3 linked regions of the Homo sapiens genome follow. The protein of the gene in region 1 purifies or fractionates together with the protein of each later gene. This does not show direct contact. Each region holds a gene or a part of one and is shown in the gene's direction. Other genes may lie near its edges. The genes, in order: CEP128, CEP162 and LAMP1.

Region 1 (3,652 bases):
GAGGGAGTCAGGAAACAGAAAAAAAAAAAAAAAAAAAAAAGATCCTGGCCAGACAAAGAGAACCCAATTCCACTGTTTTGATTTGCCTCAAGATAAAGGCTATTCATTTGAGGGCCCTGGGTATGTCCAGGGTATTGAGATGACAGTAAAGACACTGACATTTTCAGACTCAGAGAAAATGCCTAGACAGAATCTTAAGCTGTGGCTACTAGGCAAGCAATTAACCAGAATCAGATCGACAGAGCTTAGTTTTTAGTATCTGTATTGCCAAAGAAATTCCAAACTTGACTCACATGGTCTGTGACTGTCTGCCCTCTGGCTGTCACCCTTGTCAGGAATTGATGTGAAGCTTGGAACACTGCAAAGACAGCAAAAGATGGAGAGTTATAGAGTAGCAGAGCCTGAGCTTTGAGGGATTCTTCTTGAACCATCCTGTCTCTGGACTTACTGTTATGTGTGAAAAAGAAATATCTTTGCTTTTTAATCCAACTTCAGGAAGATATAATATTTCATAATTAAAGACACTTTACATGGTATGACTTCATTATGAAAATATGATTTTAATCCTCAGCACTGCCTATAAGTCTCTCAACTCATGCCAAGGGGGCTAAGTTATCTGCTTCAAACATATATCACTATATTGAAGGTCCCTACCCTCGCTCAGTCCCTCCCATGCTATCTTTACAGCCCAAATTTGATTCTATCAGTTCTTGTGTTCTCCAGTTTGGTAAGTAGAATGACCCTCCCCAAAGAAGTCACACTAATTTCTGGAACCAATGAATATGATAAGACATTACTCCTGTGATCACATTATCTGGATGGGCCTAATCTTATCACATGAGCCCTCAATAGAAGGTTTTTTTTTTTCTGGCTATTGAGAGAAGGGGACGTCAGAGAGAGTTGGAGCTTCGGAAGGATTCATCAAGCTGTTCAAGCTTTGAAGATGGCAGAGTCCATGAGCCAAGGAACAAGGTTGGCTTCTAGAAGTTCAGAATAATCGCTGACCAAAAGCTAGCAAGGAAATGGGGACCCAAAGTCCTACAACTGTATGGAAACAAGTTGTATCAGAAACCTGAATGAGCTTGGACATGGATTCTCCTCAGAACCTCCAGACAAGCGCCCTGGCCAGCTGATACATTGATTTTAGTCTTAGGAGACCTTAAGCTGAATACCTTGCTTGGCCTTTCAACCTATTGGAAGCAGTGAGATAAAAAATGTGTATTTTAAGCTACTAAGTCTGTTGGAAATTGTTATGAAGCAATAGAAAAATAATACATCTACCCTTAGGCTCATCTATATTTCTCCTACCTTACATTCTTTCGGAAGTGAACTCCTTCATCTGTGTTCCAGAGTTCCTTCTCCTCAGTTATCCCGTCTTTTCACAGTAGAGACGGGGTCTTGCTATGTTGCCCAGGCTGGTCTTGAACTCCTGAGCCAAAGCTATCTTCCCGCCTGAGCCTTCCAAATAGCTGGGATTATAGGGTGTGCCACTGGGCCTGGCTCTTTTTACAGTTTTGATCACTACCTTGCATAAACACCTCCCTGAGACCCTAATACCTCCTCGAACTTAAATTCTACTCCAACTTTTTGTTTCCCCTTTCTCACTAATCTTCATCACAGTCTTATGAAATAGCTATTATTATTTTCTCTAGTAAGAGAAATGATTTCCCCGAGGCCATAGAATTGCCCGTGATTGAACTGAAAATCAAATTCACTTCTTTCTGGTCAGAGCTCAACTGCTTATTCATCTCCTTTTGTTAGTTCTCATGTTATCTTTGTGCTCTTTCTTTCTTTCAGTTAAAACTGAGCAGGATTGGGGAAACTTTTTTTTGGAGTGATTGACTCATTAAATTTTTGTCATAAATTGTTTTACACTGAAGTATAAAATGTGAAGTGTAGAAATGTCTTGCAAATATTTGCATTTTAACTCATTATTTGTAATTCTGAAATGAGTCTTAATTGGTTCCTTTTTTTCCCTCCTGTTTCACGGAGATTATCTTTGGTGCCAGTGTTGTATAGAAAACAATCTTGGCTCCCTTGGCTGCCCATTATTTTATTTGCAATGATTAGGTGGTGAGAATTAGAGGCCAGAAGAGTTAACCCTTGGCCTCTGTCCTTCCATGTAAATCTTAGAGAGGCTGGCATAGAATGATGGACTTCTAGGCCCTTGACTTTTCTCTTGAGCCCTTTCCCAACCTTTCCTGACTTAATCTCATTTCTTTGTGGGCTTCCAGGCTCCCAGTTGCATATTGGTGAGTTTTCGTCACCATTGATATTTTAAAAATAATGGCTGAATGTACCGTAAACTTTCTTGTATTGTATCTGCATGCTTCCCTATATTATTTTCCATCTCTGTTTTGGGGTTTCTCCTTTTTAAAAGTGTATCATTGGAATGTACATCAGTATTATTTTAGGTAATAGTGTATTATTTCAACCTGTAGTAAGTTTTCTTTATAATGAGAGTCTTTGCTTTCCCCATTTGTTTGCTCAATTTTATCTTACATTTAAATAATTATTTGTGACCATGGATTGAAATAAGTTTTGGTGATGAAAATTTGAAATACATATTTCAGTGTGTTGCTATTTCAGGACAATTATATATTCCCCCCCACCTTTCTGGCCTAAAAGTATTTTTATTAAAAAATGGGAAAAATACAAAAATTATTTGATGAATTTTTTTTTTCCTTGTGGGTTAAACATTGTTTTGCTGACTGGCAGAGTCTATGGTGAATTTTACAGTAACTTTTATTTTTTTCTTTTGCTTCATGTTCTTAACCTGATAGATTTTAAAAGAAAAGGATGAATTGAAAACCCAGCTGTATGCAGCATTACAACAAATAGAGAATCTTCGAAAGGAATTGAATGATGTCCTAACAAAGCGTGCCCTTCAGGAGGAGGAGCTTCACTCCAAGGAGGAGAAATTACGTGATATTAAGTCTCATCAAGCTGACCTTGAATTGGAAGTTAAGAATTCCCTGGATACCATCCATAGACTGGAGAGCGAATTGAAAAAGCAGAGTAAGATCCAAAGCCAGATGAAAGTTGAGAAAGCTCACTTGGAGGAAGAAATTGCAGAGCTCAAGAAGAGCCAGGCCCAGGACAAAGCTAAACTTCTTGAGATGCAAGAGTCCATCAAGGACCTGAGTGCCATCCGAGCAGATCTTGCTAATAAATTGGCTGAGGAAGAGAGAGCCAAGAAAGCAGTGCTTAAGGACCTTTCTGACCTCACTGCACAGGCAAAATCCAGGGATGAAGAAACAGCTACAATCATCACACAGTTAAAGCTGGAACGAGATGTGCACCAGAGGGAGCTGAAAGATCTCACATCATCATTGCAGAGTGTGAAAACAAAACACGAACAGAATATCCAGGAGCTTATGAAGCACTTTAAGAAAGAAAAGAGTGAGGCTGAGAATCATATCAGGACTCTGAAGGTACCTCTGCTAAATTATCCTGATGATACTGAAGGAATTTTTCTGGTGGCTCATGAAGTTAATAAAGCGTAAACTTTTAGAGATCATTCTGTATTCCCAAGCACTGAAGGGAAGATAAAACCAACAATAAAGAGGCTTATTCATGCCTGTTCGGCCAGGTTGAAATGAGTTATAACAGCCACCTGGGAGCACCTATTTCAGAGCATTGAAGCCCTTTA
Region 2 (3,652 bases), on another chromosome or scaffold:
AATATTCTTTAAATACTCATATACCTGGGTCACTCTGCTCTCCGGTGACTCTCAACTTCCTTAAATATCAAGACTAAATTTCTCTGCCTAGCATCTCAAGTCTCATCACTATTCTAATACTACTCTACTTACCTAATCTGTCACATTTCCTCATGCCTTTTCCTCATTCTTGTTATAAGTACTACCTTCACAAAACATTTCGTGGAACTTCCCAGGAAATTGCCTTCTCCTACCCCCAACTCCTACATAACTTACTAATATGTACCAAGAAAGGATTAATCATACACAGCCTTGTAGTTCCTTGAGAACTGGTGTAAGATTATGCTGCTTTTGCATCCCCACAGCAATGTGCTGTAGGAGGAGAATGAGCATGGGAAACACCCAACAAATGCTTATTGACTGGCAGCCATGGCAGTGAGTGAGTCATGTTGTTACCATATGGCAGTCATATTGCTACCAAATGGAAAGCTTGTTTCTTAAGTCCTGAATATTATGACAGTAGCATGAAGCTCTTTAAGAAGAATCACATTTTTTCCAGGAAAGAATTTAAAATTCAGGTTTTCCAATTAATTTTCCTGTACATCATTTAAAATTTGTTAATATTGTCAATCTGTTTCTTAGATAAGTCTGGGCCTGAGAAGTGAAGAATAAACTTTTCTAGTCCAATATTTAGACTTTTTACTATCATTCAGTTATATGTGCTTTAATTTAGGTTTTTATGCTTTTTCTAGGACCCTACTCACACTGTTTCCATGGAGAAATATTCATATGGTGAAATAAGCAATGGATAAATTTGTCTATAGTTGGGAAGCACCATATTAATATATAGCAACAGCAGTTTACTAAAATACATGCTTTAAGTTAAATGCTGTTATTTTCAAAGTCTTTCCAATAAGAGAGAAAATGTTTATCTGTAGGAAATATACCAAATCTTTATTTATAATTTTAACCATTTACTGAACTGCCTCTGAATAAATTTTATCACAGAGACAAATGAATAGTCTTTCACACTTACAGTCCAATTAATTAATTGCATATTACAAGCATAATATGTCCTGAGAATTACCATAAAGATTGTCTCATTCTCACAATATGCAACTAGCCCTGGAGTCTCATGCATGGGTTGAAAATTGGTTAATGCTGCCTACAAGGCATTGGAGATTCTAAAGGGAACAGCTGTGATTTTCCAAAGAAGCATCTGGGCAAGAAATCTGAGTTTATCTTAAAAGATCAAATGTCAAGTGCTTTGCTTTTGGAACCCTAGATTCCCTCAGAAAGTGTAGCCTCAGGTTGGGGTAAAGTAGAGATATATCACTATTTCCTCAAGTTTGCCCTTATAAAATTCAGTAAATAGTAGCTCATGGATTGGTCATAAGAACTCATAGGCAGTAGTAATGTATAAAGCACCTAACACAGTGCAGTTAATATTGGTGCCCATTTTCCCCTTGCTTAATTCCCAGGTTTCTTCTACTGTTTTTGTGCTAACTCTGAATTAGAGGTTGAAGAGCCACTTTTATGTGTGGTTTTCTTTCATTTGCTCTGTAGGGTCAAGGAAGATACTGCAGCACACATTGCATCCCTCAAAGCATCTCATCAGAGAGAAATAGAGAAACTCCTTTGCCAAAATGCAGTAGAAAATTCTTCTTCCAAAGTAGCTGAACTAAATCGTAAAATAGCAACTCAAGAGGTAGATGACAAATCTGTTTTATCTTTTGACTTGAATAAACTCGTTTTGACTTTAATGAGATTAAAGTTAACATTGTTTTATTTGGAAATGTTTTAACTTTTTCAGCTTGGTGATAGAAATGGGAAACTATTATTGGCTTGATTTCTTTTTTAAAGAAGATAATACTATATATTTAATTTTTTTAAAGAAGATAATACTATATATTTAATTTTTCTACTTTAAAACTACACCATATAAATAAATATTTTTACAGTTTGTCCCTATACTTCTCAAATAAGTCTCTAAATTTGTCACAGGTGGTGAGGTATATGTCTAACATGATTAGGACCCTAGTACTTGAACTTGGATGTTGAACCGAGTCCCCAAGTCCCAGCTGACAGTTATCCTTAGGCATTCTTCCTGCCCCATGACCTTTTATTAACAAATAATGATTCAGGTCAATAGACAATCAGGCACTGGAATAAAATAATGAAAAGAGAGATACACAGCTCTTGCTCTGATGGAGCATAGTCTTCTAAGAATTATTATAGGGAATGCTGCCAACTCATCAGCATTTCCTCAAATAAATGTGTCTTCCTTTTTGAAAAATAGGTATATCTACTTAGAATATCTATGAGCATTACCATGTGGCCTGTCTTCTGTACTGTTTGTCACTTATAAAAATAGCATTAAAATAGGACTTTTATCTACAATCTACTTTCAAATGGTATATCCAAGAAAAAGAAAAAGGTGGCAAATCAGCCACCTTTTGGGTTATCAAGTTGAAAAATATATGAATGTTTATTGTGTTCATCTTGTCTGTAGGCTTCAATTTTAAGAAAGAAGGTCAGGGAGAAAAACATCAAGAAAGAATTATCTCACCAAGTGTAATTATTTAATACCATCTTAATTAAAAATAAATTCCTCAATTCGGGAAGTTTGAATATGGACTGGCTATTAGATACTAAGAAATTACTATAAATTTTCTTAGGTATAAAATGTTATGGTTTTGTGAGAAATGCCCTTATTCTAAAGAGATGTATGTTGAAGCATCTGAAGGTTTTGTTTCTTTGAGACAGTCTCCTTCTGTCACCCAGGCTGTCTCAGCTCACTGCAACCTCTGCCTCCCAGGTTCAAGCGATTCTTCTGTCTCAGCCTTCCAAGTAGCTGGGATTACAGGTGCACGCCACCATGCCTGACTAATTTTTATATTTTTGGTAGAGATGGGGTTTCACCATGTTGGCCAGGTTGGTCTCGAACTTCTGACCTCAAGTGATCCACCCACTTTGACCTCCCAAAGTGGCATTTGAAGTATTTAGGGGCAAAATGTAATGAAGTCTGTAACTTAACTTCAGATCGCTGAGAAAAAAAAGGACTATTTGACTACGTTAATGAAAAATACTTAAAGTGCCTTTCGTAAGTAACAATCCATACAGCCTTACAGAGAACCTCTCTGGCCTTATCCTCCATAGGAATAGGGTGTCAGAGGGCAACTATAAGCATTCTATCAAGTGATTTTGTATTAAGGAATAGTCTGGAAGAGGTAGGAAAAGTAGTATCATGATGCCATAGTGCCATAAATGTTATTTTCCCAGCGTTATAAATGTAATATTGTAAAATTGAGTTAAAGAGAAATCAGCATAGTCTGATCATTAAAAATACAGCATTAGAGATAAGATAAATTTTTCCCAATTTCTCTTAGTTTCTTGATGGAAGTATCTGTTCATATATTTCAGTTTACCTAAAGATATGAGACTGACATTTATTTCACAGATATTATGAGGCTTATGTTATATTTAAGCCATAGTTCTTAAATAAAAACTATCATACTTAACCACAGAGTATAAAGATAATATTGTCTACCTTTTTCCAAATGTGTAGACTTTATAGAGCTTTATTTTAAAAGGACTTTTTCTAGTCATGAAAAATGTTCATATTTATTTTCCCCCCCTTTTATTGATATATAATGATTTAGATATTTATAGG
Region 3 (3,652 bases), on another chromosome or scaffold:
GGGAGTCAGTGTGGAGATGCCCGTGTGCCTGGGGCGTGGCCTACTAGAGGGAGTCAGTGTGGAGATGCCCGTGTGCCTGGGGCGTGGCCTCCTGGAGGGAACCAGTGCGGAGATGTCGGTGTGCCTGGGGCGTGGCCTCCCGGAGGGAGTCAGTGTGGAGATGTCGGTGTGCCTGGGGCGTGGCCTCCTGGAGGGAGCCAGTGCGGAGATGCCCGTGTGCCTGGGGCGGGGCCTCCTGGAGGGAACCAGCGTGGAGATGCCCATGTGCCTGGGGCGTGGCCTCCTAGAGGGAGTCAGTGTGGAGATGCCCGTGTGCCTGGGGCGTGGCCTCCTGGAGGGAACCAGTGTGGAGATGCCAGTGTGCCTGGGGCGTGGCCTCCTAGAGGGAGTCAGTGTGGAGATGCCCGTGTGCCTGGGGCGTGGCCTCCTGGAGGGAACCAGTGTGGAGATGTCGGTGTGCCTGGGGCGTGGCCTCCTAGAGGGAGTCAGTGTGGAGATGCCCGTGTGCCTGGGGCGTGGCCTCCTGGAGGGAACCAGTGTGGAGATGTCGGTGTGCCTGGGGCGTGGCCTCCTAGAGGGAGTCAGTGTGGAGATGCCCGTGTGCCTGGGGCGTGGCCTCCTGGAGGGAACCAGTGTGGAGATGTCGGTGTGCCTGGGGCGTGGCCTCCTAGAGGGAGTCAGTGTGGAGATGCCCATGTGCCTGGGGCGTGGCCTCCTGGAGGCAGCCAGTGTGGAGATGCCAGTGTGCCTGGGGCGTGGCCTCCTAGAGGGAGTCAGTGTGGAGATGCCCGTGTGCCTGGGGCATGGCCTCCTGGAGGGAACCAGTGTGGAGATGCCAGTGTGCCTGGGGCGTGGCCTCCTGAGGGAGTCAGTGTGGAGATGCCCGTGTGCCTGGGGCGTGGCCTCCTGGAGGGAACCAGTGTGGAGATGTCGGTGTGTCTGGGGTGTGGCCTCCTAGAGGGAACCAGTGTGGAGATGTCGGTGTGCCTGGGGCGTGGCCTCCTGGAGGGAGTCAGTGCGGAGATGCCCGTGTGCCTGGGGCGTGGCCTCCCGGAGGGAGTCAGTGTGGAGATGCCCGTGTGCCTGGGGCGTGGCCTCCTGGAGGGAGCCAGTGCGGAGATGCCAGTGTGCCTGGGGCGGGGCCTCCTGGAGGGAACCAGCGTGGAGATGCCGGTGTGCCTGGGGCGCGGCGTCCTGGAGGCTGGGCTTCCTGCCTGGGTGGCGCTTCACCAGAAAGCCTCATGTATCTTGTCTTTTTTTTTTTTTTTTTTTTTTTTTGAGAGGGAGTCTTGCTCTGTTGCCCAGGCTGGAGTGCGGTGGTGCCATCTCGGCTCACTGCAACCTCTGCCTCCCGGGTTCAAGCGATTCTCCTCCCTCAGCCTCCTGAGTAGCTGGGATTACAGGTGCACATCACCACGTCTGGTTAATTTTTATATTTTTAGTAGAGGGGGGCGTTGCACCATGTTGGCCAGGCTGGTCTTGAGCTCCTGACCTCCCAAAGTGCTGGGATTATAGGTGTGAGCCACCGTGCCCGGCCCATCTTGCCTTTCAATACATCATCTTATCTAAAAAAGCTCGGGGACCTCATAGATTTTATTTTAAAAGGAAATGAAGCACAAGCCACCTTTGAATGGACTTTCCTGTTGGTTTTGTACCTTCCTTCCTGAGTATCTTCAAAGTAGGGCACATGTGGCTGGGCACGGTGGCTCAGTCCTGTAATCCCAGCACTTTGGGAACTCGAGGTGGGTGGATCACCTCAGGTCAGGAATTCGAGACCAGCCTGGCCAACATGGCGAAAACCCGTCTCTACTAAAAATATAAAAATTAGTCGGGCGTGGTGGCAGGTGCCTGTAGTCCCCCCTACTCAGGAGGCTGAGGCAGGAGAATTGCTTGAACCCGAGAGGTGGAGGTTGCAGTGAGCTGAGATCATGCTACTGCACTCCAGCCCAGCTGACAGAGTGAGATTCCATCTCAAAAACAAAAAAACAAAGTAGGGCAGATGACTGTCACTCCAGAGGGTCTGAGTGCAGCTCTGCCTGAGGCTGGAGTCAGCCAGATATCCATCCAAACCGGATTTCCAGCCCAGGCCCATATGGGGTTAGCAGATCTACAGTGAGGCTCAGCCAGGCTTTTGGGTTTATGAGTTCACCGGGAGGAGTGGGGTGTCTTCGTCTTTTATCCTCAGGGTCTGATAGGTGCACGCTTGTTGAATGAATCAGAGGACTGCCTGACTCCTGTTAGGAGTTGAAAATGAAGGTCACCGTGTCTCATCTCCCACCCAATTTGGCATGATTTTTTTTTTTTTTTTTTGAGGCAGAGTCCCGCTCTGTCACCCCAGGCTGGAGTGCAGTGGCGTGATCTCTGCTCACTGCAAGCTCCGCCTCCTGGGTTCACGCCATTCTTCTGCCTCAGCCTCCCAAGTAGGTGGGACTGTAGGCGCCCGCCACCACGCCTGGCTAATTTTTGTATTTTTAGTAGAGACGGGGTTTCACCGTGTTAACCAGGATGGTCTTGATCTCCTGACCTCGTGATCCGCCCGCCTCGGCCTCCCAAAGTGCTGGGATTACAGGCGTGAGCCACCGTGCCCAGCTGCAGCATTTTTTTTTCATTCCTAGGAACAGAGTCTGACTCCTAGCTTAAATGGAAGGAATCGATGGTAAAACATTGGAGGTGGAGGTTGCAGTGAGCTGAGATGGCGCCGCTGCACTCTAGCCTGGGTGGCAGAGCAACTGAGACTCTGTCTCAAAAAAAAAAAAAAAGAACTACCATCAGAAAGGCGGAGAGGATGAGAGTCCCTCAGGACAGGTGAAAGGGGCAGGAGAAGGTCAGAGGCCTGACACACCCAACATTGTCACAAAAAACTGTAAGAGAGGCTGTGGGAGCTATGAGTCGGGAACCTGGGTGCAAACCAATCTCATCCTCACAGACACCCTTGAGGGTCTGAATTGCAGCTTGCAGGTTGATGTGAGTATCTGCTGTTGCCGGGAGAGGAGGAGGGGCCTTCAGAGCACATGAGCTTTGGAAAGGCCCGGCTGTGTGCTGCTCTCCGGAGGGTGCTGGAGGAGGTGTGACAGTGGACCCTCAGGTCTCCCCAGAGGCTCCTGTGCCACCATCTCCCCCCGGGCAGCGCAGGGCACTCTCCAGTGCGTTCCGTGATGAGCTCTCCGTCACTGTCCTCCGCCCTCAGCAGGAAAGACTTTGGTATTTAGTACGCATTCAGGGAAGGAGAGTGTGGGTTTGCGTTTGTAATTCAGGTAGAAGGACGAGGGCATTTTATCCACACTTATTTCTCAAGTTCCAGTTTTTTAAACTGGTGGTTAGACCTGATGATGTTTTATTTGTGTTTCCAGCTTCTTGTGACCACTCTACAGAAACAGGGTGGGAAATGAATGTGCCACATGGATCACAGGTGAAAAACAATTGTCAAAGCAGCGTAGGTTACACTTTTTCTGTGCGTCGTGTGGCCATCTAGACTAGAATTTGGACAAGACTGGCCGGTTTTGCACATTTAACTTTTGCCTGTTTAACCCTGGTCTGTAACATTTTATAAAGGAACCGTGAAGCTGCTTTTTTTTTTTTTTTTTTGAGACAGGGTCTCCCAGGCTGGAGTGCAGTGGCACAATAACTGCTCACTGCAGCCTCAGCCTCCCAG

The links.
Region 2: the proteins of CEP128 (region 1) and CEP162 purify together in Homo sapiens (affinity purification with western blotting; one large-scale study listed by BioGRID and IntAct). This does not show direct contact.
Region 3: the proteins of CEP128 (region 1) and LAMP1 fractionate together in Homo sapiens (co-fractionation; one large-scale study listed by BioGRID). This does not show direct contact.

What each region holds. Positions count from the first base shown.
Region 1 is NC_000014.9:80,784,677-80,788,328, reverse strand, and holds part of CEP128 (centrosomal protein of 128 kDa), read left to right. Parts: intron 1-2,783; coding exon 2,784-3,434; exon of another isoform or gene 3,435-3,652.
Region 2 is NC_000006.12:84,147,597-84,151,248, reverse strand, and holds part of CEP162 (centrosomal protein of 162 kDa), read left to right. Parts: intron 1-1,545; coding exon 1,546-1,687; intron 1,688-3,652. UniProt on the Homo sapiens protein: Required to promote assembly of the transition zone in primary cilia. Acts by specifically recognizing and binding the axonemal microtubule.
Region 3 is NC_000013.11:113,314,130-113,317,781, forward strand, and holds part of LAMP1 (lysosome-associated membrane glycoprotein 1 precursor), read left to right. Parts: intron 1-3,652. UniProt on the Homo sapiens protein: Lysosomal membrane glycoprotein which plays an important role in lysosome biogenesis, lysosomal pH regulation, autophagy and cholesterol homeostasis.